Homo sapiens: one gene and its partners. The protein of the gene in region 3 purifies or fractionates together with the protein of the main gene of each other region. This does not show direct contact. Each region holds a gene or a part of one and is shown on either strand. Other genes may lie near its edges.

Region 1 (7,236 bases), on a different chromosome or scaffold from region 3:
AGCCAAGACCGAGCCACTGCACTCCAGCCTGGGAGACAGAGCAAGACCCTGTCTCAAAACAAACAAACGAACAACAAAAAAAACCGACAAAAAAAGACAGCCCGTAAGTGCCAGGTCCTGGAGACCCAGGGCTCCATGAAGAGCTCTCCTAAGCTCAATAATGGTGAACACACAGGGTGCTATAGGGGCTACCAGAAAAAGTGAGGTACTATGGACACTCAGGAGAGCGGGGCGGGGGCTGCAGTGGAGTGTGGTTCAAGCTGGAGGTTGAGGGAGGTTATGAGGGCGGCAGGCAGCTGTTTGATGGCCCACGAGGAGAGTTTGGGGCACAGGAAACAACACACTTAACAGCCCGCCTTTAAGTAGGCATGAACTTGGAGGAACCAACAAGCTGAAGGTGCAGCTTCTCGAAAGAGGGGGTCCTAGGGAATGAAGATGGAGAGGTGCCCCTAGTTGGGCAGCGAGCTGTGGAGAAACAATGGGAGCGGGGCCCGTGGGAGGGTCCTGCCTAGCACGGAAGCTGGGCCAGCTCCAGACGTTCTCTCTTTGAAAGTGGAGCCGTCAGATCCGCCGAGGGATTTGAGATAGGATTAAAATAAAGGAGTTACGAACGACACCCCTGTTTTTGGCCCAATGGGCCGGGCAGTAAGATAAACTCAGACGGAGAGGGGAGGAGGAGCGGGCCTGGCGGGCAGGCGCAGGAAGCTCTCGGTGGAGAGGCCCGGGAGAGCAGCGCTGAGCCGGCTAACTGGGAGTGGACGGTGCTACCGGGGATGGGAGAAGAGCAGAAGTGAGGGAAGGCCGCCCGCGCCGAAGCCCTGGGGCGCCCCAGCCGAGGAAGAGCCGGGAAAGGGCGTCGCCGCTCATGTAGGTAGGGAACGTCTGGGTCAAGCTCTCCGAGGGTCGAGGCCATTGCGAGCCGCGGGGTGGGGACCGAGGCTGCTCGGCAGCCGTCACGGAGCCGCCAGGCAGGAGAGCGCCGAGGAGCCAACCGCCCCAACCACGCAGGAGCTTCTGCCTAACAGCGAAAGCGGACGTTCTGCGGCCACAAGCAAATGTGCAAAACAACCTCGCAGAGTGGACAACGAGCAAGGAAAGCCAGTTTCTAGAACATGCCAATAACGTGACTTTTGCGGCGCTCAGCCGAAGCTGTGCCGGGGCCTAGGCGCGCCCAGAGGGTGCCAGGCCCTGAGTCGCCTCTCCCCACTCTGCCCCTTCCCCGCCCACCGGCCGGGCCCCGGGTACCTGGACGGCTCGCGGTCGGGAAGATGGCGCCGGGGGCGGGGTGCGCTCGGTCAGCGACTCGGCATTCGCCCCTCATGTCTGCGCCTGCGCGCGTCGGGGCGACCCCCCGCCCCTCCGTCCCCATCGGCAGCTCGGCGCTCAGCCCTCACGCCTGCGCCCGCGCCCGCCCGGACTTCGGGACATTCCCTCCAGCCGCGCAGCCCCCGGGACGTAACCGGCGCAGCAGACTCGAAGCCCGGTCTTACCCCGCCCACCCGCCTGCCAGGCAGCCACGGGGAGGGAGGCAGCAGCTTCATTTATTTTATTTTTTTTTTTTTTTGAGACGGAGTCTCGGTCTGTCGCCCAGGCTGGAGTGCAGTGGTGCGATCTCGGCTCACTGCAAGCTCCGCCTCCCGGGTTCACGCCATTCTCCTGCCTCAGCCTCCGGAGTAGCTGGGACTACAGGCTTCCACCACCACGCCCGGCTAATTTTTGGTATTTTTAGTAGAGACGGGGTTTCACCATGTTAGCCAGGATGGTCTCGATCTCCTGACCTCGTGATCCGCCCGCCTGGGCCTCCCAAAGTGTTGGGATTACAGGCGTGAGCCACCGCGCCCGGCCAGCAGCTTCATTTATTAGGGGCTTCGGTGAGGGTGGGGAAAGGCAGCGCCAGGGTCAGAGGCGCCGAAAGAAGAGCTTGGAGCCGTGGTCCAGCGTGCACTCGCCGGGGCCCGGCCGACTGGGCTGCAGCTGGCGCAGGGCGTCCCTGTCCTCAGCGCAGAGGCGTCTGCTGCACAGCTGCAGTTCCCGGAGCTGCGCGGCTATCTTGTCCCACAGGCCCAGGCCCAGGGGACCCTGGACGGCGCAGCCTGCGGAGGGGAAGAGGGCAGACCTCAGCGCTGCGGGGGCCGGCGGCGTCCTGGTGCCCGCGGCAGGCTCCAGGGAACAAACTCGCTTTCGCTGAGGGCCCCAGGGCTGTAGCGAGGGGCAGTGGGCAGAGCTCCGGAGAGGCCCCATGACTCTCCAGGAAGGGGTGGGATCATCTGCACAGCCAGCGGTCAGACAGGAGGAAGGGTGGCTCCCTTCTTTACCTCTGACAGTGCCCGATCTCAAAGTCCATGCCTACACGTCAGTCTCCCCACCCATAAGAAGGACATAATGGATCTGCTTGCAAATCTGTACATCGTGGGCCTGAGTGGATCAAGAGAACACTAAGCTCAGGAATTCAGGGAGCTGGGTGGGAAGGTACAGATGCCAGGAACTGAGGTGTGGGGAAGGGGTCTCACACCAGCACTCGGGGGCCTTCCTGGAAAAGGCGGCCTGGCCCTGGGAGGTGAAGGGGAGGGGGCACAGGAAGAAAGCAGAGCCCCGCTTCGTGCACATTCACTTAAGCCCTCATCCCCTGGAGGGCACAGCCTGCCCCGGCCCCAGTGGGGCAAGCCAGGTCATCAAAGCCCTTCCTGGGGTTGTCTTCCAGACAGCTCAGGTTGGGGACTGCCCTGATGTGGCTCAAGAGAGAACAAGCTAAATCAGACCACAGCCCTGGGCAGGGTTGTGTCAGAGGAGCCCCTGCCAGGAAGTAGGAGGGTCCCTTGGCAGCTTTCAACACCCTGACCTTGGGATCCCTTTTCCTGCCAGGGACAAGAAGAAAGTCCCTGTGGAACAGGGTCTTGCCTACCATAGTCTGCTCTGAAGGTTGGGTTGGAGAGACCAGAGGCAGATACCCACCTCGCCCCCTAACCCATGGTTTTAGGAGCTGGGATCATGCCCCTTTTCTGTCACTGTCACTCTGCCCCCTGCTGCCCCAGCCTCATGGAGCCCAGCCTTGCTGCCTGGCTGGTAGCAGTGACAGCCCCTTAGGAGGAGGCACCTGGGTCTCAGGCAGGTCCCTGAAAAGGCCGAACATGGCAGGCGTGGCCACCATACCAGCACTCACCTGACAGGCCAAGGAAGCTAAGGCCTTGGGGCCGCTTTTGGAGGGTGGACAGGAGCTCTTCCAAGCTGGCACAGCTGATCTCAGGGTTGGCAGACAGATCCAGTGAGATGAGTGAGGGGCACAGAGAGAGACATCTGAGATAACATGGGAAGAAGTGCAAAGGTTGGCTTCCAGAGAGGCTGTGCCCCAACACTAGGAAAGCTGCCCAGACAAATGCCAGCTCAGGGAGCCTCGGGCCAGACCCAGGGGCTCTGCCTCAGCCTGGCCCAGTAGCAGGTGGCCCTCTAGGGTTGGGGGTCCTTCCCAGGGGTCAGGGCCACAGTGGCCAGCTCTGGGTGTGCCTGGCCCAGCTTGGGCTCCTCTCAACACTCCCCAGAGAGCTGACTGAGGCTCCAGGTCATAAGAGCAGTGCCCTCATGTGGGCCGAGGCACAGGAATGACAAGGACACCCCCGGAGGAGTGCTCTCAAGAGCCACAGGCCCATGCTAAGAAAGAAGCCAGAGGGTAGTCTGCCTTCCAGGGCAGCCTGAGAGGCTGGTGGAAACCGAAGGAGCCAGGTCTTGGGATGTGCTGGGGAGGAGGAGCTGGTACCATTTCTGTGGCCCTTCTCCCATAGGGTCCAGAGCCATGAGATCAGACCCCCAGGTCAGCAGGCAGCAGGGAAAGGGCGTTACCTGCACAGGTCTCTAACAGCCTTGTCCCCCAGGTGGTTTGCAGACAGGGTCAGGTGGGCTAGAGCACAGCCTTCCTGGACATGAGCAGAGGCCCAAGGGGGCCAAACGGAGTGGCGCACCTGCCCTGCCTGCTTCCCAGCAGGTGCACCACACCCAGGGGCCCAGAAGGGAGCAGAGTCCCCCATCAAGTTGGAGATCGGAAGGAAACACCTCTCCTGATGTGGGTCACACTCTGCACGTGATAGTGTGAAAATAATAGGGTCCCAGTTGTGCCTGGAAGACCCCCCAGGAGAGAGCATCAGGGGCCCTAGTGTGCCCCTTGGGACCTTCCTGGCGGGGGGCAAGATCACCCTGAGTCCCGGGTCCTATCTGGTGGGCAGGAATTCACAGCCTGAGACAGGCAGCTGTACAAAAGCATTCCCCCAGCTGTTTTTTTCTTTTTTTGTTTTTTTTTTGAGACAGAGTCTCGCTCTGTCGCCCAGGGTGGAGTGCGGTGGCGCCATCTCGGCTCACTGCAAGCTCCGCCTCCCGGGTTCACGCTGTTCTCCTGCCTGTCTCCCAAGTAGCTGGGACTCCAGGAGCCCGTCACCACGCCCGGCTAATTTTTTGTATTTTTTAGTAGAGATGGTGTTTCACCATGTTAGCCAGGATGGTCTTGATCTCCTGACCTCGTGATCCGCCCGCCTCGGCCTCCCAAAGTGCTGGGATTACAGGCGTAAGCTACCACGCCCAGCCTGTTTTTTTCTTTTTCTTTCTTTTTTTTTTTTTTTGAGACGGAATCTCGCTCTGTCACCCAGGCTGGGTGCAATGGTGCAATCTAGGCTCACTGCAACCTCTGCCTCCCGGGTTCAACCAATTCTCTGCCTCAGCATCCCGAGTAGCTGGGATTACAGGTACCCGCCACCACGCCTGGGTAATTTTTGTATTTTTACTAGAGACAAGGTTTCACCATGTTGGCCAGGCTGCTTTTGAACTCCTGACCTTGTGATCCACCCCCTTCGGCCTCCCAAAGTACTGGGATTACAGGCGTGAGCCACCGCGCCTGGCCCCCCAGCTGTTTTTTCTAAACCTCCAAACCTCTAACTCTCTCTGTAGAGCCCCTCAGCGAGTTCAGCCCGAATCTGGGGAGAGGCGAGCTCCTCCCAGCAACCCTGGGACCTTTGGCCTCTGAGGCTCAGTATTTTCTGGGTTCTTCCCCACCTCGTACCTTGGCCAGGTATCGGAATACAGGCTCCATGAGGTCCGAATCACCCTTGCCGGCTGCCACGGAGCTGAGCTCTAAGTGCAGGAGGGTGCCGGCGGGCAGGCTCTGCAGGGTCCTGGCCAGGGCAGGGGCTCCCAGGGCGTTGTAGGACAGGGACAGGGTCTTCAGGTGCTCAGCATCTGCACCGGGGCCAGAATCCGTCAGCCCCACGTGGCCACAGCCCTGTACCCACCCCAAGTTCTGGGCCCAGAACCCTCAGGACCCCTTTGGGGAAACCACTACCGCAGTGCTCGCAGGGTGGGGTGGCAAGTGCAGAGGCAAAGGCTCTCGCCCAGATTCTCCCAGCTGGGAGGGCGGGGCCAGACTTCCAAGCTCGGCTGCCCCCAGTTCTGGACAACTTGCCCTCTCCCACCCCACAACCACACGGTCCTGGGCCACATGCCTCTGCACAGTGGGGGTGCCAGGGGAGTGCACTGACCATTGCTGCCCCCCTTACACTCCCCCTGGATGACACCCAATTCCCAGCCTCTTGGCACTGGGACCCCAGTCTCTGCAGCCTGAGTGGGCTCACAGTGGAACTGCCTCAGGCGAACAGCACTCAGCTGGCGAGCACGGGATGGGGACCACAGGACACTAGCTGCCCGGACTCTGCTCTCGGTGTGTCCTGCGGGGGTCAGCCTGGCTGGGTGGGCACCAGACGCCCCTCGGAGGCAGACCCTGTACCCACACATCCATCTATTGCTCCCAGGTGCCAGGCCCTCCCGGAGAGCCAGGTCTGGCATCCCAGGCCCCTAGACGTTGTTTGTTTCGTTTTTTTGACACGGAGTCTTGCTCTGTCGCCCAGGCTGGAGTGCAACGGCGCGATCTCGGCTCACTGCAAGCTCCGCTTCCCGGGTTCATGCCATTCTCCTGCCTCAGCCTCCTGCGTAGCTGGGACTACAGGCACCGGCCACCACGCCCAGCTAATTGTATTTTTAATAGAGACGGCGTTTCACCGTGTTAGCCAGGATGGTCTCGATATCCTGACCTCGTGATCTGCCCGCCTTGGCCTCCCAAAGTGCTGGGATTACAGGCGTGAGCCACTGCGCCCGGCCTAGACGCTTTTTTCTTAAGGGATGGGGTCTCACTATGTGGGCCAGGCTTTCCTGGAACTCTTGGCTCAAGCGATACTCCCGCCTCAGCCTCTCAAGTAGCTGGGACCACAGGTGTTGCCCCTGTGTGCCCAGCCTGGGCCCCCTCTGAAAGTCCTGGAAACCCTCAATGCCCCAGGGCTAGGGAGTGGACAGGGAGTGCCTGGTCAGCTCACCTTGGAAAGCACTACCCAGTGCTGTCTGGTGGCTCAGAAAGAAGCTGGGGCCGAAGCCACACGCCTGCAGGCGCAGGGTGCTGAGTAAGGGGCAGGCGTGCAGGAGGGAGGCCAGGGACTGGCCACAGCCGTCCCCCAGGGGGTTCATGCTTAAGTCCAGCTCCTCCAAACTCTGTGGAAGACACAGGCTGGCAGTGAGCCCCCAGCAGTCCCACGGACAGGGTCCCCCTTGGGGCTTGGCTTGGCAGTCTCTTCCCCACCTTGCCTGGCATAGCCTATTACAGCCGGGCACTGGCTGGCTCTCCCAACTACCCTAGACCACCCAGGGACCTGCAGAATGGGAACCCCAACTCCCCGCTGTTGAGGGCCTGCTGCTCTCTGTGCCTATACCTGCAAGGTGGCTTGGCCTGGGAGCCCCATGGCAAGCTGGCGCAGGCCTTCGGGACCCAGGTGATTGGAGGAGAGGTCAAGGAGGGCCAGGCTGGGCATGGTGCCCAGGGCAGCCACCAGCTCAGCCACACACTTGTCCCCCAGCCGGTTCCCTGCCAGGCGCAGCTCCCGGAGTGCTGTGTGCAGCTTGAGGGCCCGCAGCAGGGGTGTAAGCTGGGCCTGGTCCAGGGCCAGGGAGCAGGCGCTGAACGAGAGGCCCAAGCCCTGGAGCTCCACGGCCTGCAGCACCTGTTGGTGCTCCCCTGCGGGAGGGATGTGATGTCACCAGGGTAAGGCCGGCCCTTTCTGCCCTCTGAATCCCAGAGGGCAAACCAGGCAGCCCCTTTTCAACAGCCCCAGGGGTCACCCACCAGACTTGCTGTAGAGCCCACTCGCACATGCCTGTGGGTCTAGCACTGTGAGGCCCTGGGGGCCGGGGTGGGTCTGCAGCACCCTGAGCTCC
Region 2 (8,099 bases), on a different chromosome or scaffold from region 3:
ACCTGTGAGATCAGTGGTTTTCAAGGTAGTCTCATACCAGCAGCATTAGCATCACCTGAGTTTTTTTTTTTTTTTTTTTTTTTTTTTTAATTGCAGGTACTCGGGCCTCACTGGAGACTTACTAGGTCAGAAAGTTGGGTGAGGCTCAGCAGCCCATTTTAGTAAGCCCTCAAGGTAATTCTGATACCCTTAATAAGACAGACCAATCGTAGAGAGCCTGAGGGCATTTGTTTGGTTGCTAATACACCTTTTTTTGGAGTGAACGAAGTACCATGATCTTGTCAGAAGATGAGTTCAAAATAGAGCATGGCTATGTAATTAGCTGTGTGGTTTCAAAGGATTAGTTATAACACAGTTATAAAAATTAAAGGTAGTGGTTAACAGGATAGTTTTGAGGATCAAATAAATAATGAAACAAGCTTTTCATGAACTCTTAAGGCCTATGTAAATTTCAGTTGCAAACTGTTAACGCTTATGTTTTTTTCCTTTTGGGGCCCTTATTCATACTAGTGACTTCAGTGGCTTTTATTCACAATAGTGATCAGTTGCTAAACTTGCTTCTGATTTTGGGGTGCAGGATATGAGCTTAAGAAACGTTACATGACCTGAGATTAGGAGGTCTGGGTATTATAATAAAGTATCAGTGCCTGACGTTTCTCTGCCTGGTTTCCTTATTTGCAAATAAAGGTAGCAAGCACTCCATTTGGTACTTCTAAAGATCTAATGAAATTGTGTGTGTTGACACTGCTTTCATGGTTGCAAGAGAAAAAGACAGTGAAATCAAAGCATCTATCATAAATGCCTGACACATAGAAGATACTTTATGACAGCTATTTGTTATTCTTGTATATAAAACTAGCTTTAGGCTGGGCACGGTGGCTCATGTTTCCAATCCTACATTTTGGGAAGCCAAGGTGGGCAGATCGCTTGCATCCAGGTGTTTGAGACCAGCCTGGGCAACATGGTGAAACCCTTCTCTATGAAAAATACAAAAATTAGCCAGGCATGGTGGTGCACATGTATAGTCCCAGATACTTGGGAGGCTGAGGTGGGAGGATCATTTGAAGGTTGAGGCTGCAGTGAGCAGTGATCATGCCACTGCACTCCAGCCTGGGTGACAGAGCAAGATCCTGTCTCAAAAAATAAATCTAGCCTTTTCATTATATTTCTCTTACTACACTTCTATCTCTTATTTTGAAGTTTTGTTTTAGTTCCTGAGTATTGACTCTCCAGATTCCCAAATACCAATGTCCTGTACCAGATTCTTGGTACATGGACCAGATACTTGAACACTTAAAGCACTGTTGGTGTTGTACTTTGAGAGACACAGTGTAAGAGCTGTCATTTGTTTGCCAGCTGGTTATTTAGCTAGAGTGGCAATACCTTGCCTTGATAAAGTTACCGCTTTTCAGGTTGTAGCTTCTGCAAATCATTAGGGGTCTTGGAATTGATTTATCTTTCAGAAATAGATTCACAAACTCATTCATAACCAGAATATCCATTTGTAATGGGAAATAGAAGTTTTGGATGACAGTTTCTTCCTAGTTCTTCCTAAGAAAATCTTTTCAAATGATAATCATTAATTTCTTCCCACACATGGATTTTGAGTGATGCAGGTTAATTGTATCATCTAATCCAGTCTGATTTACCCATATCCATTGTAGCAATGTGTTTAACACATGAGCTAGACTTACTTCTTTCCATGACTGCTGGAGAAACATAAACCATGTCTTATTTCATGATTACCCTTTTTTTTCTAGCTTCTAAACTGATTGTTTTCTGACTGTTTTGCTTCAGACCATGTGCATTGTATGTGGGTGTGCATGAGTGTATAATATGTTCACATGATTTGGATTAAATTTTCTTTTTATAATCAGAATTCTGTTATGTTTCCCTGATGCTGTGCATTTCTTGTTTACTGGTTAGAGTGAGTAGTTTGTATAGAAAGCTGATTTCATTTCATTGTGTATGGACATTTCTTTTTCATCCACGGAGGGTCTGATTTTTGTGGGGATTGAGGGAAGTCCCTGCCCAAGGCACCATGGTGTATTGATATGAATATGGGCTTTTGGAGTTAGACTGTTTAAATCTGGCTCTACTACTTGTAACTTGTGTGATTTGTGAAGAAATGCTTAACCTGTCAGCCTCTGTTTTCGCATCTATGAAATGGAAATAATATAACAAGTCCGTATGATAGATGGTAAGGATTTCATGAGATGATTTTATATGTAAATGGAGATAACCATAGAGAAGAATATATGGTTAATGTAGTCCATTATCATTTCTGTATATTACTACTGGTTTGTTTGTGTTTTTTTTTTTTTTTTTTTTCATGTGTTCGGGCTGAGCTCTGAATTTTCGTCTGCCTTTCTGGGTTTGTTAACTTATAGTCTATTTCTCATTGTTCTATTTCTCCACCCTCAAGTTAAGTATGGTACTCTTATTAAGAGTGGGCATCCATGCATAGCGTTAACTGTCATTGTGCATATACTGAATTGATTGCAAAAAGAATAGTCCATGTTAGACCAAGGCCACTTTTTAATTATACTTAAAGATCTTGTTGTCAGCAATTATAACTGGTTCATTTTATAGAAATACTTAAAAGATTGGGATATTCCTAGGTTTCAGAAATATTTTCAGTTTTACTTTTTATGATCCGAGAATTCGTAACACAGCTTTTATTCTTCACTATAGAATGAATACTCCACAGATTTGTGGATTATAGCCTGGGAATCAGAAATATCACTGATTCAGAGATTACCTTTTATTTTGATTTATTTAGGAAGGCGACATGCCAATTCATGAACTTCTCAGCCTTTATGGTTATGGTAGTACTGTTCGACTACCTGAAGAAGATGAGGAAGAGGAAGAAGAGGAAGAAGAAGGTGAAGATGATGAAGATGCTGATAATGATGACAACAGTGGCTGTAGTGGGGAAAATAAAGTAAGTCTATATACATATATTTAAGATTGTAGTCTTTATTCTTGTTGAAGTTAAAATTGCTTAATATATTTTGATTACTTGTCTTTATAATCTTTTCCTGATTTTAAAAGTGTTAAAAATTAAGATATTACAGAAATACATAATATAAAAATTGGAAATCCCCTGTAATTTACTCCTGAGGTAACAGTTTGGTCTTGTCATTTCAGGTTTCTTTTTTTCCAGTGCTTATTCTAATTAATTTATACCAACTTTCTAAAAAAATGCTATTGCTTTTAAATAATAAAGGCTAATTGGCAGTTTGTGTTTATTTTTCTTACTTTATTTTGAAATAATTTTAGATTTATAAAAGGTTTAAAGTTAGTATAGAACGTTCCTGTATACTCTTACCTCAACTTCTGCTAAGGTTAACATCTTGGTACAGTGCTATTAACTAAACTGCAGATTGAATTATACCAGTTTTTCTGCTAATGTACTTTTTCCTGTTGCAGGAACCAACCCAGAGGATGATACTACATCTAGTATATTCATTTTAGTCTTCTGCATATATTAGAACAAAATTTATATGCTATGGTCTTTCATCTGCAACTGTTTTCCTTACATCTTAGAGAAATTTAATTTATTATTCCACAGGAGGAGAATATAAAGGATTCATCAGGTCAGGAGGATGAAACTCAGTCTTCCAATGATGATCCATCACAATCTGTTGCTTCTCAAGATGCCCAGGAAATAATCCGCCCACGTCGATGTAAATATTTTGATACAAGTAAGTGTTACTGGTTGATAATATTTGAATATAATTTTTACTATTTTAGGTATTACCTAAAATCCTCTTTTTTAAACTGGTCTTTGAATTCATTTAGTCTGAAATTCTTTTCAACAGTAAATGGATTTTGTTGTAAGTTATTAGTTTAGCAATGCAGGGTCCCTGTTGTTAGTGAATATACTATGGTAATTGTGTCATGTACTACTTGACTTTGGGTGTATTTGTTTTTTCTTTGCCCTGTTTTTAAATGTTTGTTTCATGGTCATCTTTTTGTTTCTCATAGTCTTTCCCTTAGTTTCCATTTTTTACTTTCTTTGCCTCTTAGCCTTTTTTAGGTATATTCATAAATACACCTAAATTTCTCTACTTTAAAAGGAAGAAAAACACTTGAAGAAAAATAAACTGTCATGAAATATGTAGTAAGATAATATTATCTTTATTCTAAATCAGTTTTTTCCCCTAAGTTTTTATAGGAAATCATTTCATGAGAATACAATTATGTAGAAAGTTTATGGTTTTTTTGGTTTTGTTTTTTTAAGTGATAGGGTGTTAATTATTTGGTTAGAAATATCTTGGCTTAATTCATTAGATATCTTTGAGCATATCCAAATATTTGATGGTAGATGTAAAAATAATATGTAGATTTAGACAGGATAAGCAGTCATTTTATAGTATTGGTGTCTTATTTATTCTAGATAGTGAAGTAGAAGAAGAATCTGAAGAAGATGAAGATTATATTCCATCAGAAGACTGGAAAAAGGTAGTTAGAACAATATTTTCCCAAAATTTAGATAAATTAATATTTTTTTAAAAAGCCTCGTGTAATTATTTTTTTTTTTACTAACTATGTATATTGATAAAATCGATGTAAGCCCTTTTATGACATTTAAATGTTTGGTAAATGTTCAGATTCCTTCTTAACACATCTAGGTTAGATTAGAAATCTACATTTCTGGCGGGGTGTGGTGGCTCACGCCTGTTATCCCAGCACTTGGGAGGCTGAGGCAGGCGGATCGCTTGAGCCCAGGAGTTCGAGACCAGCCTGGGCAGCGTTGCGGGACCCTGTCTCATTTTATAAAACAAAACAAAAAATAAATAAAACAGAAATCCACATTTCTGATTTAGTCCTGAACTAGTGCCAAATTAGGCATTTGTTGCCCTGTAAAAAGTATCACGTATATGTTTTTCAATATTATGGAAAGCATTTGTGGAGGCTTTGATATTTGTTAAGTAAATTTTGTTTAGTAGTTCATATTGCAAGTTTTTCATTCTGTATTACTTTATAAAAGAAAAACTCTCCAAATGATTGAATTTAATGTTGACATTTACAACTGATAAGCTTATTATATGAAGAAACAGATTTGGCTTCTTCGTAACTATATACAATTAATTTCTGAAATGAATCTAAAGATAATATATTGAGATTAGTTTTTAATTATAAAATTATATAGCATATAATTAATCATACAGTTAAGTTAAAGAATTGTAAGTTATTGTAAAAGAACTGAGCTCTTAGGAAAAATCTATCTAAACATTATGTAGAATTAGCTGGTTGCAGTGATGTTTCCCCTGTTGTCCCAGCTACTTGGGAGGCTGAGGTAGGGAGAATCACTTCAGCCCAGGAGTTTGAGACCAGGCTGGGCAACATAGTGAGACCCCATGTCTTCAAAAAAATTTTTTATGTAGAACTGGTTAAAACAAAGAAATAATGTTATTTTTGTTGAGAGACAAGGTTAGCCCAGTTTACGGTATGTGTTAATTTGAGCAAATGATGGGACTCGACAGAAAACAAGAATCACAAAAGTTAATTTGTGTGGCCTATTTGGGCAAGGGTTCTTTCATCCTGTTTTTAATCTGATTCCTACAGTGTGCAGAAATTAAGATGAAAAAAGCTAGAAACCTTGGGAGTCCTTATAAATTGCTGTCCCACTTCATATTCAAGTTTATGTATCTTCAACATGTGTTGTTTTTTAATCTGGAGTGTTCAGTAGAGTATTTGATTAAGCATTCAGTGTTTTTTTTTTAAATGAAAGAACAAAAGCTCAGAGGTAGAACACCTCTCATTGCTGGAGGGTATTAATTACCCACACCTTACTCAGAAAGGGTATTAATTAACCACACCTTTCTCAGAAAAAAATTATGTAATAAAGCAGGCCAGAGTAAATGCAGATTGTTTTCTTTCAGTATGATTTTGTTGTTTTAAATAATTGTCAAGGTTCAGAGATTCATTTTTTTTTAAGACTTATAAGATGAAATTGAGTTTTTATAGAAACTTAAGGTAGGGGAAACAGTTTTGAAGTCAAACCTGAATTTTAGTTGTAGCTCTAGAACTTAGTAATTGTGTGCTCCTGAGAAAATCAAATTTTTGAGCTTCATCTTCTTACATATAGTATGGGAATAACAATGTCAGCCTTATGGGGCTTGCTGAAAGATTAAAGGAAAATTGCATATATGATATGTTAACACATAATGATCTTCAAAGCTATTTCCCTTCCCTTCCCTGTACTACCGAACAAATTAACAGATGAAAAGAAATGTTCAGAACTGAACAGGAAAAAGGAAGTACCTATCTTTAAACTAATCCAGATGTTCTCAACCCTGTTTTTATGTTAGAATCATTTGGATAACTTAGATGTACTGACTACCAGGGCCTTCATTCATAGATTCTAATTTAATTGTCCTGCAGTGGATCCAGGCATTGATGGTTTAGAAGCACCCCAGCCAGGGTTAGTAACTTGACAATGTTCTTTGGTAGGCCTAGGTGAGTTAAGTTAAAAGAGGCACAAGATGTGACAATAAAGGACTCTTTTTATAGTAGAAGACATAAAGAGAATTCCATTGTAAGGGTAGAGAAAATTTGTTGTAAGTTTGATTCTTTTTAGAAAACTGATCATGAGAAAGATTGGTTTTTCTTATGGGTATAGAAATAACTTTATTACATAAAGCACGTCTTTGAAGTTGTACTGGATAAAATGAGCTCCTCACATCAGTGAGGTAACAATAGCAGGAGAGAGACTTTCCAAATCCTAAGAGTTACCAAAACTTCTAGACCATGATTTTGTACCTTTCATGCCCAATTTTGAAAATGTCAGTAAATGTGTTCTTAACATTTAGCCATCACACAAAAGAGGGTTCATGTAATCTTGGTCTCCTTGCATTGTGAAATTTCACCAGTGGTAGTTTGCAGTTGCTTTTGAGAACATCCAGTTTCACCTAATCTGTGATTTGACTGTATAGATATGATTACTGGATTTCCTATTTAATTATATTTGTGGGAGGAGGTTACTTTTTCATTTTGTATTGTTTTAATGAAAGTCAAGCCATAACCTGCTTATCTATTTCATTTAGAGTTTCTTTCATTTGGCCCCTACTGAGCTTTATACAAACCCTTTTTGTTATTTTTCCTACTTTGAAGCTCTGTTTTTCAGACTTCAGTCTATGTCAGAATCACCTAGAGAGCTTGTTAAAATACCAATGACTGAGTCCTGTCCCCAGAGTTTCAGTAGGTTTGGGGTGGGACCTGAGCATTTGCATTTCTAACAGTTTCCCATTAGCTGTGTGTGGTGGCATGTGCCTGTAGTCCCAGCTACTCAGAGACTGAGGTGAGAGAATTGCTTGAGCCTGGGAGGTCGAGGCTGCAGTGAGCCATGATCACTCCAGCCTAGGTGACAGAGCAAGACCCTGTCTCAAAAAAACAAAAATTTCATAGATGACACTGATGCTGCTCATATAGGGATCATATTTAAGACCACTGTCTTAAGTGTAGATACTCTGAAAATATCTGAATTTGACTTTGTGTTTTACATGTTTTGCAGTTGTCTTACTAATGGAATTATCAGAATTCACTTCTTTGTCTCTATATTTTGAAATAAAGTTTGTATTTATTGTTTACGTTGCATTTCACCTCAGTATTATTACTAATATTTTCATCCAGTCATTATTTGTCATTCATCTTCACAAAGGTACCTCTGAGGTAGTTAATTGGTTGTTTTTGTATTTTATGACAGAGAAACCAGGAACAGTTTACTAAGATGGTAAGGCTAGAAAATGGATATAAAATCTGTTACTAGATCTTACTAATGTTTTATGTTATTTTTAAAATAGGAGATTATGGTGGGCTCCATGTTTCAAGCAGAAATTCCAGTTGGCATTTGTAGATACAAAGAAAATGAAAAAGGTGGGTTATTAGTAAAGTTACGTAGCTGAATTTATGCTTTCAGTGTAATGAACTGTTACTTTATATGTAAAATGTGATAAGAACATGACAGCCTACTAAGTAACCCCATTGTAACCCCATTGGTTTGTGAAAGAGGACCCTTCATTATTTCTGTGAGAAGAATGTGTGTACTCAATTTTTTCAGTTTGGTCTATAGAAGCCTAGCCAAAAAAGGA
Region 3 (7,078 bases):
TGGGCGACAGAGAGAAACTCCGTCTCTCAAAAAAAAATATAATAATATTTTTTAAAAAAATAAAGTTTAGGGTAGAGGACTCAGGTTTCTTTGGGACACTTAAGCATATAGATGACAATTAATAACATACATTTTAGAGACAGATAGAAACAGAGGCATACTGGTAGACTGACAGAGACACAGTAAGAGGTTTATGGTTTTGCTATTAAACTCATGAATTATGCTTTAGTGTGTTTTTAACATTCCAATATGTGGTAGGGGTGATTACCTTTTTCCAAGACAGACATATTAAAATATACACTATAATTGTGAATGTATTCTTTGTCATACATTTCTGCTGTTTGTTTTCTATAAAGCTGTGTTTTGGGGTGTTAACACAATGAGAAATAGTGTATCTACCTATATTTTCCGCTTTTAATTTTCAAATTACTTTTTCATTAAATATTATCTCTGCCATTAATTTTGCAAAATAATTTTTTTGGGGGACAGTTTTGTCTGGAATGTAATTTTTCCACTCCTTTTCTTCTAAATGTTCTTCTGTGCCAATAAATTTTAGGTATTTTATAACCAAGGTATAGCTGTGTTTTACTCCTAGTCAAATACTGTCTTTTAAATGGCAAATTTAATCGGTTAAACTTCATTTTGATATTTGGACTCATTTCTAATGTTTGACTTTGCATTCTAATTTGTCATGCCAGTCCTTTCTGATTTCCTGCTTTCCACTGGACTATTTTTTTTTTTTGCTATTACCTTCTTTCTAGTCTACATTAATTTTATTATTTTAGTGGTTACATTTAATATCATAAAATATAAACCTGACTTAAGAAAATATAACAATCAGTATGTCTGTCCTCCTTATAAACAGTACAAGGACATCAACATGCTTTAATTTGTTTCAGCCCCTTTCATCTTCTGTAACTACTCTCCAGTGTTTTTGGTTTTTTTTTTTAATATTCTAGTATTATTGTAGGTTTTTTTTTTTTTACAACTAGTGTATTTATTTAGATAGATTTATACTTTTACCTCTTCCTTTGGCAATATTATTGCTTATTGCATCTCAGTCTTTCTTCTGAGTTCAGTCTTTTTATTTCAGTACATTCTTTAGCATTAATTCTTCTAGTATGAATCTGAGTGGCAAAACTTTCCAATCTTTGTCCAAAAATTATTTCACCCTTACACAAAAAAGAGTTCATCTGAGCACAGAATTTTAAATTGAAAGGTATTTTGCTTTAGAACTTAGAAGGTGTTATTCTATCGTTCCATGACTTCTGTGATTTCTGATGAGAAATCCATAACATTGTAGTGGAGGAAGCAAAACTTTACTTCTACCCTCAGGATATTTTGGTTGGGTTTGAGAATTAAATTGACATGAGAGGTCAACAGGAGAAAAGCATATAAATTTATTGAATGGAAGTTTTACGTGGCACAGGAGTAGGAAATGAAGACCCGAAGACAAAGAATGGAATGCTTATGTGAAGAATCTGACAAAGTGAAGTAAGTTGTGAAAATGTGACAGCAAAGGGGCTTGGGTTAGAGTAATTAATTAGGTGGAGAAGTGACTAGAGAGGTAAGGGTTGGTGTAACAAGGTTTATTTGTACAGATTTTCCTTGGCCTTAATTTTCTGTCCTTGATGAGAATGATACTTTCCTTCTGGTATAGGGAGGGCATCTTTCATCTCCTGCTTTTAAGAAACAAAAGGAAGGTCAGAGTGTATGTGCATCTGCTGTTTTTCAAGTGTCTATCTCCAAATAGTCAATATGTCAGAGTGACATATTTTGAAATGGTGTGTTCTGAATTCCTTCAACGTGATTTATCATAAAAAGTAAAAGGAGGCTGAGCATGGTGGCTCATGCCTGTAATCCCAGCACTTTGGAAGGCCGAGTCGGGCGGATCACCTGAGGTCAGGAGTTCGAGACCAGCCTGCTGAACATGGCAAAACGCTGACTCTACTAACAATACAAAAAAAAAAAAAAAATTCGCTGGGTGTGGTGGCAGGCGCCTGTAATCCCAGCTACTCAGGAGGCTGAGGCAGGAGAATCGCTTGAAGCCGGGAGGCGGAGGTTGCAGTGAGCTGAGATGGTGCCATTGCACTCCAGCCTGGGTGATAAGAACAAAACTCCGTCCCTGCCCTCCCCACCCAAAAAAAAAAAAAAGTAAAGGGAAAAAAGTGGCATATATTTGTCTCAGTTGCTGCTGAAGTTTTATTGTTAATAGCCAATATTTATTTTTAATTAACAACTTTTAGCAATTTTGGAATTACACAAATCCCATAAAAACCCAGCATTAGGCATAAGACAGTGTCATATTAGTCTGATTATAATAAAAAATAAGTCAGCCGGGCATGGTTGCTCACGTCTGTAATCCCAGCACTTTAGGATAAGGCCAAGGTGGGTGGTCAGGAGTTCGAGACCAGCCTGGCCAACATGGTGAAACCCCGTCTGTGCTAAAGATATAAACATTAGCCAGACATGATGGTACATGCCTGTAATCCCAGCTACTTGGGAGAATGAGGGAGGAGAATCGCTTGAATCCAGGAGGCAGAGGCTGCAGTGAGCTGAGATCAGGCCACTGCACTCGTCTGTGCGACAGAGGAAGGCTGTTGGGGGGGAAAATAAGTCAATATCACCATTTTTATTATCACGTGTAACTATTAGACAATGCATTTAGACAAAGTCAACTATTTAAAACAACAGGACAAAATTATATGATTTTTCTGCCTACCTGGAAAACCACAGAGGAAAAAAGCTGGACAACAGAAATGACAGAATAAGGAAGGAAATACAAACCAGTACGAATATCAAGAATGTTCTATCTGTAAAACATCGTCAATCAGAAAACATAATAAAAGAAACCCTTCTAATATTTCCCCAAAATACAGTAATAAAAAAGAATACCTGGAGATAAACTCTATGAAACGTGTGAAAGTTCTATAAGAAGAAATCAAGGCTGGGTGCGGTGGCTAACACTTGTAATCCCAGCACTTTGGGAGGCTGAGGCTGGCGGATCACCTGAGGTCAGGAGTTGGAGACCAGCCTGGCCAACATGGCGAAACCCTGTCTCTACTAACAATACAAAAGTTAGCTGGGCGTGGGGCAGGCGCCCGTAATCCCAGCTACTCAGGAGGCTGAGGTAGGAGAATCACTTGAACCTGGGAGCTGGAGGTTGTAATGAGCCGAGATCACGCCACTGCACTCCAGCCTGGGTGACAGAGCGAGACTCTGGCTCCAAAAAAAGAAGAATCAGAAACTTCTGTAGGTAAATTGTTTTGAAAAATCAAGGGGGCATGTCTCCTGTAACATGTATTCACAATTTTTTAATATATTTTATTCTATCTAAACATTTAGTTTAATGCAATTTTAATAGGATTGCATTAGAGATAGAAATAAAAGTATTATGTAGTGCATTTGGAATAAAAGAATACACAGGTTCTCTTCTATAAAGTCAAGTCCCTCCTCCTCTGCCTTGGCAAGTCTGAGAAGTTAAGTGCCACTTTCTTGACAAAGTATCTACATTAATTACTTGGAATTCATCTGTTTAGGTTTGTCTTATATCCTGATTTTAAGTTTTACATTTGCCATGTTCTAAATATTACCCAGTTTTATTCAACATATAGTTGCCATTTCTGTTTTCAAATATCTTCAATTTTTGCCGTCCCTAACTGCATCCCTTATTTATTATGTATGCAGGTTAATTCATACTTTTGTAACTTGATTGTCCTTACTCGGCATGTTTTATTTTATAGAACTTTACCTGCTTCTATACATGCCTTATTATGTGTAGACATCAAGTGTTTAGCAGTTTTTTTTTTGGTAACCAAATGATTTTTTTTTTTTTTGAGGTAAGGTCAACTGTTGAATATCGTACAATAATTTTTAATTTAGTTATTTGGCAGCGTTACTGAATGGGTTTTGCTTTTCACTTTCTCTTGGTGTTTACAGCACAAACTGCAAACACAGATCAACAAACTATTTTGCCTCTTTTCAACAGTCAAAACTTTTGAAGCATATACTCTTCCAAATTTCTAAACTTCAAATTATGTTCGGCCTTCTAGTCCCATTCCTGCCTGAGTCTAACACTAGTATCTCACCATCACATATGGCGTAAGGCTTCTTTTTGACATATTTTACTTACATTTTAAGAAATAATTCTATTATTCTTTACAAAGTACGTGAAACCACAGGTATCAAATATATATGCTTACCCAAATTTTAAGATTAACTTACTTACATGCCACATTTAATTATGAGTATTTCGTGAAACTACCATATTTGAAAGGAAATTCTCTAAAATGTACTTTAACCAGCCAGACTGATGTTACCTGGATTTAAACAGGAAGATTACACCTCTCCTGCTTGTAATGCAATTTTCACTTCCATGTGTAACCCTTAACATAACTAACATACATAAATCTAGTTTGAGATAGTCTCGCTCATGTCACCCAGACTGGAGTGCAGTGGAGCAATCAATCTTCGTTCACTGTAACTTTCGCCTCCCGGACTCATGAACAACCCTCCCACCGCAGCCTCCCGAACAGCTGGGACTACAGGCCTGCATCACCAGACCCAGCTAGTTTCTGTGGGGACAGGGTCTCAATTATGTTAACGGTCAAGCCCCAGGCTTGAACGACCCTCCCGCTCCAACCTCCACTGAAGTGCAAGTACTGACTGCTCACAAGCGTTAAGCCACCTCGCCCAGTGACATATATAACCAAAATTACCTCAAACTAATGGCCGATGGAACGCTCCTTGAAAATTCAGTCCCCGTACATTCCCGAAATGCGCTTAAACGGGCATTTGTGACAGGCAAGTAAGATGGCTGGTTAACAGCAGTAACGTTTTGTAACGTACAGCCTTTTTCTGAGACGGTAGGTGGCTCTGAAAAGAGCCTTTTGTTTTTTCTGACACAGAAGTCTTTTTACCAATGACAACCTTAAGTTACTTGCTTTGGGCTTTATGGTGGTGACTCTCAGTCTTCTTGGGCAGCAGCACTGCCTGAATGTTAGGCAGGACTCCGCCCTGGGCAATGGTCACGCCGCCCAAAAGCTTATTGAGTTCCTCATCATTGCGGATCGCTAGCTGCAGGTGGCGGGGAATAATGCGAGTTTTTTTGTTATCGCGAGACGCATTGCCTGCCAGCTCAAGGATTTCTGCTGTGAGATACTCTAACACTGCCGCCAAATACACTGGTGCGCCTGCCCCTATCCGCTCTGCATAGTTTCCCTTACGAAGCAGACGATGGATCCGGCCTACGGGAAACTGCAAACCCGCTCTAGAAGAGCGAGACTTAGACTTGGCGCGTGCTTTTCCTCCCTGCTTCCCTCGTCCAGACATCTCCTCGCATCAAATTGCAGCAACACGAGAACCACATTTCTAGGGCTGCTACTGGGCCTATTTATAGTCTGACTGAGGTTGGCATTTGCTATCTGATTGGCTGATGGCCGTCTACCCAATCAGAAAGTCGTACTAGAATCGCCTCATTTGCATTCACGCCACTTCCCATTGTCCAATCAGATTTTGGATACCGAACGCGGCGTTTGAGGGCCGTGCCTATAAATACCGCATCTTTCATCCTCCAGTTCTGTTTGTTTACTTGGCGAGACTTGGAGCTGAGGTCATTTGGAGCTGTTTAATACTGAAGAGCTGTTGAGCACTGGAAAGTGCTGTGTAACCCTGGAAAAGAACCGTGTAACGCTGCAGAAGTGTGTGGTAGCTATGCCGGAGGTGTCATCTAAAGGTGCTACCATTTCCAAGAAGGGCTTTAAGAAAGCTGTCGTTAAGACCCAGAAAAAGGAAGGCAAAAAGCGCAAGAGGACCCGTAAGGAGAGTTATTCTATTTACATCTACAAAGTGCTAAAGCAGGTCCATCCGGACACTGGCATCTCTTCGAAAGCTATGAGCATTATGAATTCCTTCGTCACTGATATCTTTGAGCGTATAGCGAGCGAGGCATCACGTTTGGCTCACTACAGCAAGCGCTCCACCATTTCTTCCAGAGAGATTCAGACAGCAGTGCGCTTGCTACTGCCGGGAGAGCTGGCTAAACATGCTGTGTCTGAGGGCACCAAGGCTGTCACTAAGTACACCAGCTCCAAGTAAGCCTGCTAAGTAAACGTCATTTCTAACCCAAAGGCTCTTTTCAGAGCCACTTAAACATACTGAAACAGCTGTGGGCTTCGTTTTTGTGTAGTTTCTAACCGTAAGGGTTTTTTTTTTTTTTGAGGCGGAGTCTCACTCTCCCAGGCTGGAGTGCAGTGGCGGAATCTCGGCTCACTGCAAGCTCTGCCTCCTGAGTTCACGCCATTCTCCTGCCTCAGCCTCCTGAGCAGCTGGGACTACAGGCTCCCACCACTACACCCGGCTAATTTTTGTATTTTTAGTAGAGACGGGGTTTCACCATGTTGGCCAGGATGGTCTCAAACTCGATCTGGTGATCACCCACCTCGGTCTCCCAAAGTGCTGGGACTACAGGCGTGAGCCACTGCGAATATATCCAAATCAGCTGTGGGCCGAGGGTAGACGAACTAGTTGCAGCAAGACAATCCTTGCTAGGCACCGTGACTCGCCTGTAATCCCAGCACTTGCAGAGGTCGAGGCTGGCGGTTCATGAGGTTAAGAGACGGAGACCATCTTGGCCAACAAGGTGAAACTCCGTCTCTACTAAAAATACAAAAATCAGGTGGGCGTGGTGGCGTGCACTGTAGTCCCAGCTAATTGGGAGGCTGAGGCAAGAGAATCGCTTGAACCCAGGAGCCGGAGATTGCAGTGAGCCGAGATCGTCACTGCACTACAGCCTGGTGACAGCGAGACTGTCTCAAAAAACAAAACAAAAAAACCCCCTAGTTTGTATAAAAGCTACATGCTGATACTGGTATATTTAAGGTTAGCATTACACATAATAAAACTAAAAAGCGCAGCGACATAGACAGTATAACTTGCATTATGATCCCAAATTTTAAGACCTCACAAAAAGGGAATAGTTTAGAGGAAGTTACGTTTTGTGCCACAGGTAAGTCAAGGTGTGGAAATGATTGTGCGAACTCTGGAGAACTCACAAATCTGGTTAGCAGGAATTAAACGG
Region 4 (8,099 bases), on a different chromosome or scaffold from region 3:
TTCAGACTATGATAAAAGCTATGAACAAAACAAGGCAGGGTGATGTAATGGGGCACTACTTTAGACAGGGAGGGTCAGAGAAAACCTTTCAGAGAAGGTCACATTTAGGTTGAACCTGAATGACAAACAGAAACAACTCAAAGATTTGAGAAGCAGAGTGTTCCAGACACAGGAAGGAGCCAAGTGTAAAGGTCCTAAGGTAGAAATGAGCTTGAGGAGTTCAAGAAACAAGAGGGAAGGTGAACAAACCTGTAGCTTAGAGAGCAAGAAGGAGACCAGGTCAAATGGTTTCAGAAGGAGGCAAAGGTTAGATATGACCCTGTTGGCCACCATATGAAAGCAATGAAAGACCACTGGAGCATTTTAGGAAGGCAATTGACATAATCCAATTTGAATTTTTAAGAGATCACTTTAGCTGATAAGTGGAAAAAATGGTTTGGGAGGAAGGCAAAAATAGGGGGTAGGAAAAACAGGAAACTAATAATACAGTTCAGATAAGAGGGTATGGTTCTTGAGATGAGAGGGAACAAATTCATGAGAGATACATATATGTATATGGTTTTTGTGAGGCACAATCACAGCTCGCAGATGCAATACGCCCACCTCAGCCTCCCAAGTAGCCGAGACCACAGATGAACATCACCATGCCTGGTTAATTTTTAAAAAATTTTAGAGACAGGGTCTCACTGTGTTGCCCAGGCCTTTCTTAAACTCCTGGACTCAAGCGATCCACCTGCCTTAGCCTCCCAAAGTGCTGGGATTACAGATGTGAGCCACCACGACTGGCCCAAACTTATGTTTTGAATATAACGCGAACAGAACCTGCTGAGCAATTAGATGTTGAGAGTGAGGGGGAAAAGGAATCTAGAACAATTCCTGGGTTGTTTTTGGCTGCAGGTTACAGGTGATTTTTACAGTCAAATCACATACAGCATATGATTTAATCAGTTTTGATGAATGCCTATCAAGACCTAACCATTTCTATACTCTAAAAAGTTCCCTCACATCTTCTCTTGGTCAATCCCTTTCTACCCAAGAAGCAACACCAATCTGAAATCTAGTACATAAATAAGTTCTGCCCATTCTGGAATGTCCATTAAGTGGGATCACCCATTACATATGATTTTTGGTTTTTCACTGAGCATATTTGTGAGATTAATCCTTATTACACGTATCTGTAGTTTGTTCCTTTTTGTTTGTGGTCTTCCATTGTATGAACATGCCAATTTGTTATCTACTGTCTCGCTGATGGACATCTGGACTGTTTAGTTTTGGTTATTATTTGGCTATTAATATTCTTATGTAAGTCTTATTTGTGGACATTTTCATTTCTCTTGGATAAATACCTAGAAATTAAACTGCTGGGTCACAGGGCAGATGTATGTTCAACTTTTTGAGAAACTGCCAGTTTTCCAAAGTGGTTGCATCATTTTATACTCCCATCAGCAGTGCATTCAAGTTCCAGCTGCCTGACTCCTACGTGTTTTGCTTAAATAACTCTTACCTATGCCACAATCAAACTCACAGTCTTTCAGCTCTTCAAACATATTTCATTCTACATTTTTTTTTTTGAGACCTTTGTGGATGCACTCAGGATACATTCCTCCTTGCCCCATCCCCTTTGCTGCCTCTTATTCATTCAACAAATATCCTGAAGGATGAGAAAAAGGCTAGGCTTGCCAGAGTGCTATGGATACAGGAAACAGTATATAAAAAAGTTCCAGATGGTGGCTCACACCTGTAATCCCAGCACTTTGGGAGGCCGAGGTGGGCAGATCACGAGGTCAGGAGTTCAAGACCAGACTGGCCAACATGGTGGAACCTGTCTCTACTAAAAATACAAAAATTAGCTGGGCCTGGTGGCGGGCGCCTGTAATCCCAGCTAGTCGGGAGGCTGAGGCAGGAGAATCACTTGAACCTGGGAGGCGGAGGTTGCAGTGAGCAAAGATTGAGTCACTGCACTCCAGCCTGGGTGACAGAGCAAGACTCCATCTCGAAAAAAGTTCCAGAGGTGGGAAAGAGCTTGCTACCTTCTGGGGCCTAAAAAAAAGTGAATGTGACTGGAGGGCCGTGAACAAAAGCAGCAGGAGGGTCAGAGAGGCAGGCAGAAGCCAGATTATTCTGGCCCTTGTGAACCATGTGGGGGAGTTTGGAATCTAAGTGCTATGGAAAACCATTAAAAGATTTTAAGCAGACACATACGACTCTTGGCCGCTCTGGGTGAAGTGGAATAGAGGCAGACACCAGCAGAAATGAGGCGGCCATCATCATGTTCCAGGTAAGAGGTAAAGAGGGTAGTGGCAGTACAGATGAAAGAAGTTATCATCTTATGGAAATAGCACTGACAGTAACTTGATGATAGATTTAGAGGTAGAGGGTGGTGAGAGAAAAGGAGGAATCTGATTTGAGAAACCGGGTAAACGGTAGAGCCCCTTACAGAGTTGGGGACAAATGCAGGACAAAGAGTTTGTGAGGAATAAGTGTTCAGTTTTGGACTTAAGCTCACAATACCAGTGAGATGGTCAAGCCGCTGTGTCGAGCAGGAGTTGAAGGCGCTAGAAGACATCTAGCTGAAGATGTGAATGTGGGGATCATCATCTTATGAACAAACAAAAGCCTGGGGAGATCAGAGATCACCGAGGGAGAAAGGACACTGAAAAAATAGGGTCTGGAGAATGCCAATGGTCAAGCATAAGAGGACAAACAACCAGAGGTGGGAAGAGACACTGAGCTCAGCAGGCTGATGAGGAAATACATGGTCCCGCTCTGAGAACCCTCCAGTGACCTCTCAAGTCAGGGTTATACACCTGGTACAGCATCTTCTATTCCCCTTATGAGAATACTTTTGATAACCCTATTTAATTGCCCTTCTCTACTATATACTAGGCCAATATTTGAGAACATAAAATCAACAGAATTAGCACGGACCAGCCCTGCTCTTAGACACTGGACTAAGACCAGTCCAGTGTCTTAGTACATAGCACAACATAGACTGATGGTTTAATGGACAGCTACCATTCTGAGTGCCACCTGCAGGCAGTCCACTTCACCATATACTTTTCCTATTTTAGTGCCTTCCCCCAACAGCCCAAAAGAAGATATATCTCCGTTGCACAGATAAGGAAACTACAGCTCAGGCAAAATGCCAAAAGTCACTGATAGCAAGTGATGGAGCCAGGATGAGGTTGCACATCCTCCTTCACACGCTCTGCTGCCTTCCATCACGTGGACTTTCTTCAGCAATAATATCCTCTCACATCACTACCAAAGGGATACAGAATCTGGCCTCAGGTAATTGGTCTCCCACAGCACTAAGTCAGGGAAACGCCCAGAGAAGTACCCCTGCTTGACTTCTCAAGAATCCCTATTTCTTGCCAAGCACAGTGAACATTCTCCAGACTCTCAAAGTAGTGCTTCATCCTTAGGGCACTTCTAAATGCAGCAGTGAAATCTGGCTTCCCTGAAACTGAGGTCTGGAGGTAAGCTGCTGGAGCCTTAACTCTTTTTCAATTCTAGAAACCCATTTTAGCCACCTATCAGGAGTTTCACCCTACATCCAAAAGGCCTCACTCTAAATGAACTAAATCTGATCATGGCCAAGGAAGTTTCTCCATGTCACCTATTTTGGACCAAGGCATAATTAGGATGAGAGAAACCAATGGGGCCTAAGAAGACAACACTACACATCTTTGTGAAAATTAACAGCAGTACAATTTTGTCTCTGCTTTCAAGCTTGATGTGTGCCATCTCTCCTTGATATCTTAAGATTGGAACTACATAGGCTTTTTCCTAAGCGAGTACATTAACACCCAGGAGCTTCCTTTTTCCACTCAAGAGCCACTGTGAACTATGCTGGTAAGAGCGTGGGGCATAGATGGCAAAGAATAGGTCCTACCCTTGATTCTGTCAGTATAAAGCCACATAACTTTGGGTAAATGACCAGCCTCTTGGCATCTTCCTGAGTTGTAAAGCCAAAGGGTTAGACTAGACAATTTTTTAGGTGTCTTCCAGCTCTAAAATTCTATAATCAGAGAGTATGGAAAGGATGGGAGAAGGCACGCTGGATGCCAGCTGGCTGGGAAAGACTGAGAGGATGAGCCCTCCTGGCTATGGTTAACAAAGCCTTTCTGATCCGCACAGTTCCCTCCCTTGCCAGAGCCTCTGCTTAGAGCTATCCTTGCTTTCCTTGACATCCCCACCCCCCTACCCAAACAGAAGATCCCCAACACAGAAACATGAACACATCTACAGGTCTAGATCTAAAGTGGGGCGGGGGCGGGGCGGGGGCAGGGTGGGGGAGGGGGGAGAAACAGACATAACCAGAGAATGTTTCCTACACTGTCTAACACTCACCAATATTACAATACATCTCCACATTTTTTATCAGGATGATTTTTTAAAAAAAGCAGACAACACTCCTCTTTCTTAGCCTTTACAAGGTACCACTAATGATCTCCCTTAAGCTCTTTTGAGCCAGGTCCCTATTCACAAACCAAAAAGATATAAACAGAGGGAACACTTCAACCAGCCCACTTCCATCCTTTGGATTAACTTCTCAAGATGCTCAGGGCTAAACAAATTATTTACTTTGTTTAATGTCATTTTCATCCAGCCCACAGATCAAGTTCGACTGCCCTACTGGCAGAAAAGGCTTCAGAACAGGGATTATCTTTGTGACCACTCTAAAGTAACATCCCCTGAGTTATTTCACATTGTTTTCTTATTTTCTTCACCGCTATTATCATCACCTGACATTTTTATTTACTGTTTACAGTCTGTCTCCAGAGTAGGCTCTTTCTTGCCCACCATCACATTTCCCATACTTAGAATGCCTGTAAATACTTGTTAATGCAAATTAGCACACACATGCACGCGGACCTTAATCCACATTCAGGGACATGACATTCAAAAGTGGAAACCATCTTCCAATCATACTGATATCAAATGTTCCAATGAATTTCTACTCTTTCCTATAGAACAGCTTACATATGCATACTGCAATAATGATATTTTCCCTAGTAGTTTTAATTCCCCACTATGAAACACCAGATAATAAGCCACGGATATACCAGCTAACTCATGTTATAGTTCATCTTCCTGCTGGGTCACGCATATTACCCAAAAAGCAAACATTGCTCTTACACAGAAAGTACTGATTGTGTTTGTCGCCATGAGAACCTTTTCACCCATACCACATGTACCAAGGGTATTACAGGACTTTCAACAGCCTAACCAATAATCAAAAACTATCCAGTGCAATGTGACCAAATTATGCTCTACTAACTATAAATACCTTGATTTCAGTATACTGTATTCTTTTTCTTCTTTTTTTGGACAGGATCTTGCTCTGTCTCCCAGGCTGGAGTACAATGGCAACAACATGGCTCACTGTAGCCTCAACCTCTCAGGTTCAAATGATCCTCACACCTCAGCCTCCTGAATAGTCTGGACTACAGGCACCCACGTCACATCTGGCCTTTTTTATTTTGCAGAGACCAGGTCTCACTATGTTGCCCAGGCTTACTGTATTTCAAAGGTATCACTGTCATGTACCGTTTTACTTCAATGGTTTTATTGTTTTGCTTTATCTTGTTACTTTTTTACCTCCACAAAAAGAAAATGAAGACAGCAGAGACAAAGCCCCAGACAGAATGAATGAGTACTAAGGTGCCTTGAACACAAAGTCCCCATGAGTAAGAAGGCTTAAGGCATACTGTGGAAAGAACTGTCTTTGGTAAATATATCTTTTGAGTCCCACCCAGTCGAACTGAGTGAGAGCAGTCACCATACAAAATGATTCTAGTGCATTGTAAACTAGTCAGGAAGAGATAGCCCTTTACGTATTATGTTACTCTTTAAGCTGATACCAAAGTTTTCAGCTCAGGACAGAATGACGGAATTAAGTATGAAAAGAGAAATTTTTTCACAGATTAAATCTCAAGTACACTGGCAAAACTGACCAAGTATGGGCAAGGTAAAAGTTTAGGGAACTCCCAGGGGGTCACAAAACCATAAGCAGTCACAAAAACCACCCTTTCCAGTATTTCACCTAAATCTAGATTTCAGGTTCATCATAGCTTTAAAATTAAAAAAAAAAAAAAAGAGGGGCACAGCAGGAAGATATGGATTCCAGGGCCGCACTTACCACTGACTGATTTGTGCCTTGAGCAGGCAACAAACCTAGTACAGCACAGGCTCTGGAGCCAACAGCAGGAGGGTTATATCTAAGCCTTGAGCCTCATTAGCTCTACCAGCTCTCAGGGAAAGGAAAGGTCATCTATCTCTAAGGTCAGCTGGGTGGATATTGTAACACAATTTAAAATGCCTTGGACAGAGTCTAGCACAAAAGCTTGTTTTTTATACAAATGCCAGCATTTTTTCCTGCCTATATGAAAGGTAGGTTGGACTCATGAGAAAAAGTCCAACTCCAATTAAGTGTGATCATTTCAATTACATTCCATTTTATCTTACAGAGTTTTAAAAAGTTGGCCAGGTGCAGTGGCTCATATCTGTAACCCCAGCACTTTGGGAGGCTGAGGCAGGCTGATAACCTCCTGACCTCACCTGAGATCAGGAGTTCGAGACTGGCCTGGCCAAGATGGCGAATCCCCATCTCTACTAAAAATACAAAAAAATAGCCAGGCATGGTGGCAGGAGCCCGTAATCCCAGCTATTCGGGAGGCTGAGGCAGGGGAATCGCTTGAGCCTAGAAAGAGAAGGTTGCAGTGAGCAGAGACTGTGCCACTGCACTCCAGCCTGGGCAACAGAGCGAGACTCCGTCTCAAAACAAACAAACAAAAAAGTATACCACTACTAGGTTATGGAACCTAAAAGCCATGTCTCCCGATATCTTACCAACTTTGGCAACCTCTCACGTGAATACACACAAATTACTTTGTAGAATGAAAATTTTATAACAATTTTTTCCCTTGTAAGTTTTATAAGACAAGTGTAATATACATGTGAGCATGATAACTGCTTACAATTTAATAGGCCGGGCACGGTGGCTCATGCCTGTAATCCCAGCACTTTGGGAGGCTGAGGCAGGCGGCTCACCTGAGGTCGAGTTTGAGACCAGCCTGACCAACATGGAGAAATCCCGTCTCTACTGAAAATACAAAATTAGCCAGGCGAGGTGGCGCATGCCTGTAATCCTAGCTACTCGGGAGGCTGAGGCAGGAGACTCGCTTGAACCCTGGAGGCTGAGGTTGCAGTGAGCCAAGATCGCACCACTGCACTCCCAGCTGGGCAACAAGAGCGAGACTCCATCTCAAAACAACAACAGAAAAAACAAAACCAATTTGAGTAATCGGAGTTTTTTTAAACACCACACTGAACGCAAGGTCATAATTCAAATCCTAACAAACTGTTTATTCTAGAAAATCACAAATAATCTGTGTGGCTATATAAAAGTGTCTACTTGTGGGCTGGGCATGGTGGCTCATACCTGTAATCCCAGCACTTTGGGGGCCCAAGGCGGGTGGATCATGAGGTCAAGAGATTGAGACCATCCTGCCCAATATGGTGAAATCCCATCTCTACTAAAAATACAAAAATTAGCTGGGCGTGGTGGTGCGCACCTGTAGTCCCAGCTACTCAGGAGGCTGAGGTGGGAGAATTGCTTGAACCCGGGAGGCGGAGGTTACAGTGGGCCGAGATAGTGCCACTGCACTCCAGCCTGGCAACAGAGAGAGACTCTGTCTCAAAAAAACAAACAAAAAAGTGTTTACTTGTGTGATAGGCCTGATGGTAACATACAAGAAAATTACTACCAAACTGTCTCCGAAGTCAATAATTATAAGCACTCTGCCCCTATGCTGGGATCCTTTTGGAAACTGTTCAAAGAGACTGAATCAAAAAGTGATCTAGCCCAGGCGCAGTGGTTCACACCTGTAATCCCAGCACTTTGGGAAGTCAAGGCAGGCGGATCACCTGAGGTCAGGAGTTCAAGACCAGCCTGGCTAACATGGCGAAATGTTGTCTCTACTTAAAATACAAAAATTAGCCGGGTGTGGTAGTGTATGCCTCTAATCCCAGCTACTCGGGAGGCTGACGCAGGAGAATCACCTGAAACTGGGAGGTAGAGGCTGCAGTGAGCT

What was found.
Region 1: the proteins of H2BC1 (region 3) and TONSL purify together in Homo sapiens (affinity purification with mass spectrometry; 4 studies listed by BioGRID and IntAct, with this or other methods). This does not show direct contact.
Region 2: the proteins of H2BC1 (region 3) and MIER1 purify together in Homo sapiens (affinity purification with mass spectrometry; 4 studies listed by BioGRID and IntAct, with this or other methods). This does not show direct contact.
Region 4: the proteins of H2BC1 (region 3) and TCF20 purify together in Homo sapiens (affinity purification with mass spectrometry; 4 studies listed by BioGRID and IntAct, with this or other methods). This does not show direct contact.

The regions. Positions count from the first base shown.
Region 1 is NC_000008.11:144,427,244-144,434,479, forward strand, and holds the end of TONSL (tonsoku-like protein), read right to left. Parts: intron 7,037-7,236; coding exon 6,735-7,036; intron 6,517-6,734; coding exon 6,345-6,516; intron 5,218-6,344; coding exon 5,042-5,217; intron 3,909-5,041; coding exon 3,835-3,908; intron 3,295-3,834; coding exon 3,161-3,294; intron 2,094-3,160; coding exon 1,900-2,093; 3' UTR 1,532-1,899; downstream 1-1,531. UniProt on the Homo sapiens protein: Component of the MMS22L-TONSL complex, a complex that promotes homologous recombination-mediated repair of double-strand breaks (DSBs) at stalled or collapsed replication forks.
Region 2 is NC_000001.11:66,955,277-66,963,375, forward strand, and holds part of MIER1 (mesoderm induction early response protein 1), read left to right. Parts: exon of another isoform or gene 1-2,782; coding exon 2,783-2,944; intron 2,945-3,574; coding exon 3,575-3,707; intron 3,708-4,402; coding exon 4,403-4,467; intron 4,468-7,811; coding exon 7,812-7,884; intron 7,885-8,099. UniProt on the Homo sapiens protein: Transcriptional repressor regulating the expression of a number of genes including SP1 target genes. Probably functions through recruitment of HDAC1 a histone deacetylase involved in chromatin silencing.
Region 3 is NC_000006.12:25,721,197-25,728,274, forward strand, and holds H2BC1 (histone H2B type 1-A), read left to right. Parts: upstream 1-5,580; 5' UTR 5,581-5,712; coding exon 5,713-6,096; 3' UTR 6,097-6,149; downstream 6,150-7,078. Other genes in the region: H2AC1 (histone H2A type 1-A), read right to left, coding at 4,936-5,331. UniProt on the Homo sapiens protein: Variant histone specifically required to direct the transformation of dissociating nucleosomes to protamine in male germ cells.
Region 4 is NC_000022.11:42,259,996-42,268,094, forward strand, and holds part of TCF20 (transcription factor 20), read right to left. Parts: intron 1-8,099. UniProt on the Homo sapiens protein: Transcriptional activator that binds to the regulatory region of MMP3 and thereby controls stromelysin expression. It stimulates the activity of various transcriptional activators such as JUN, SP1, PAX6 and ETS1, suggesting a function as a coactivator.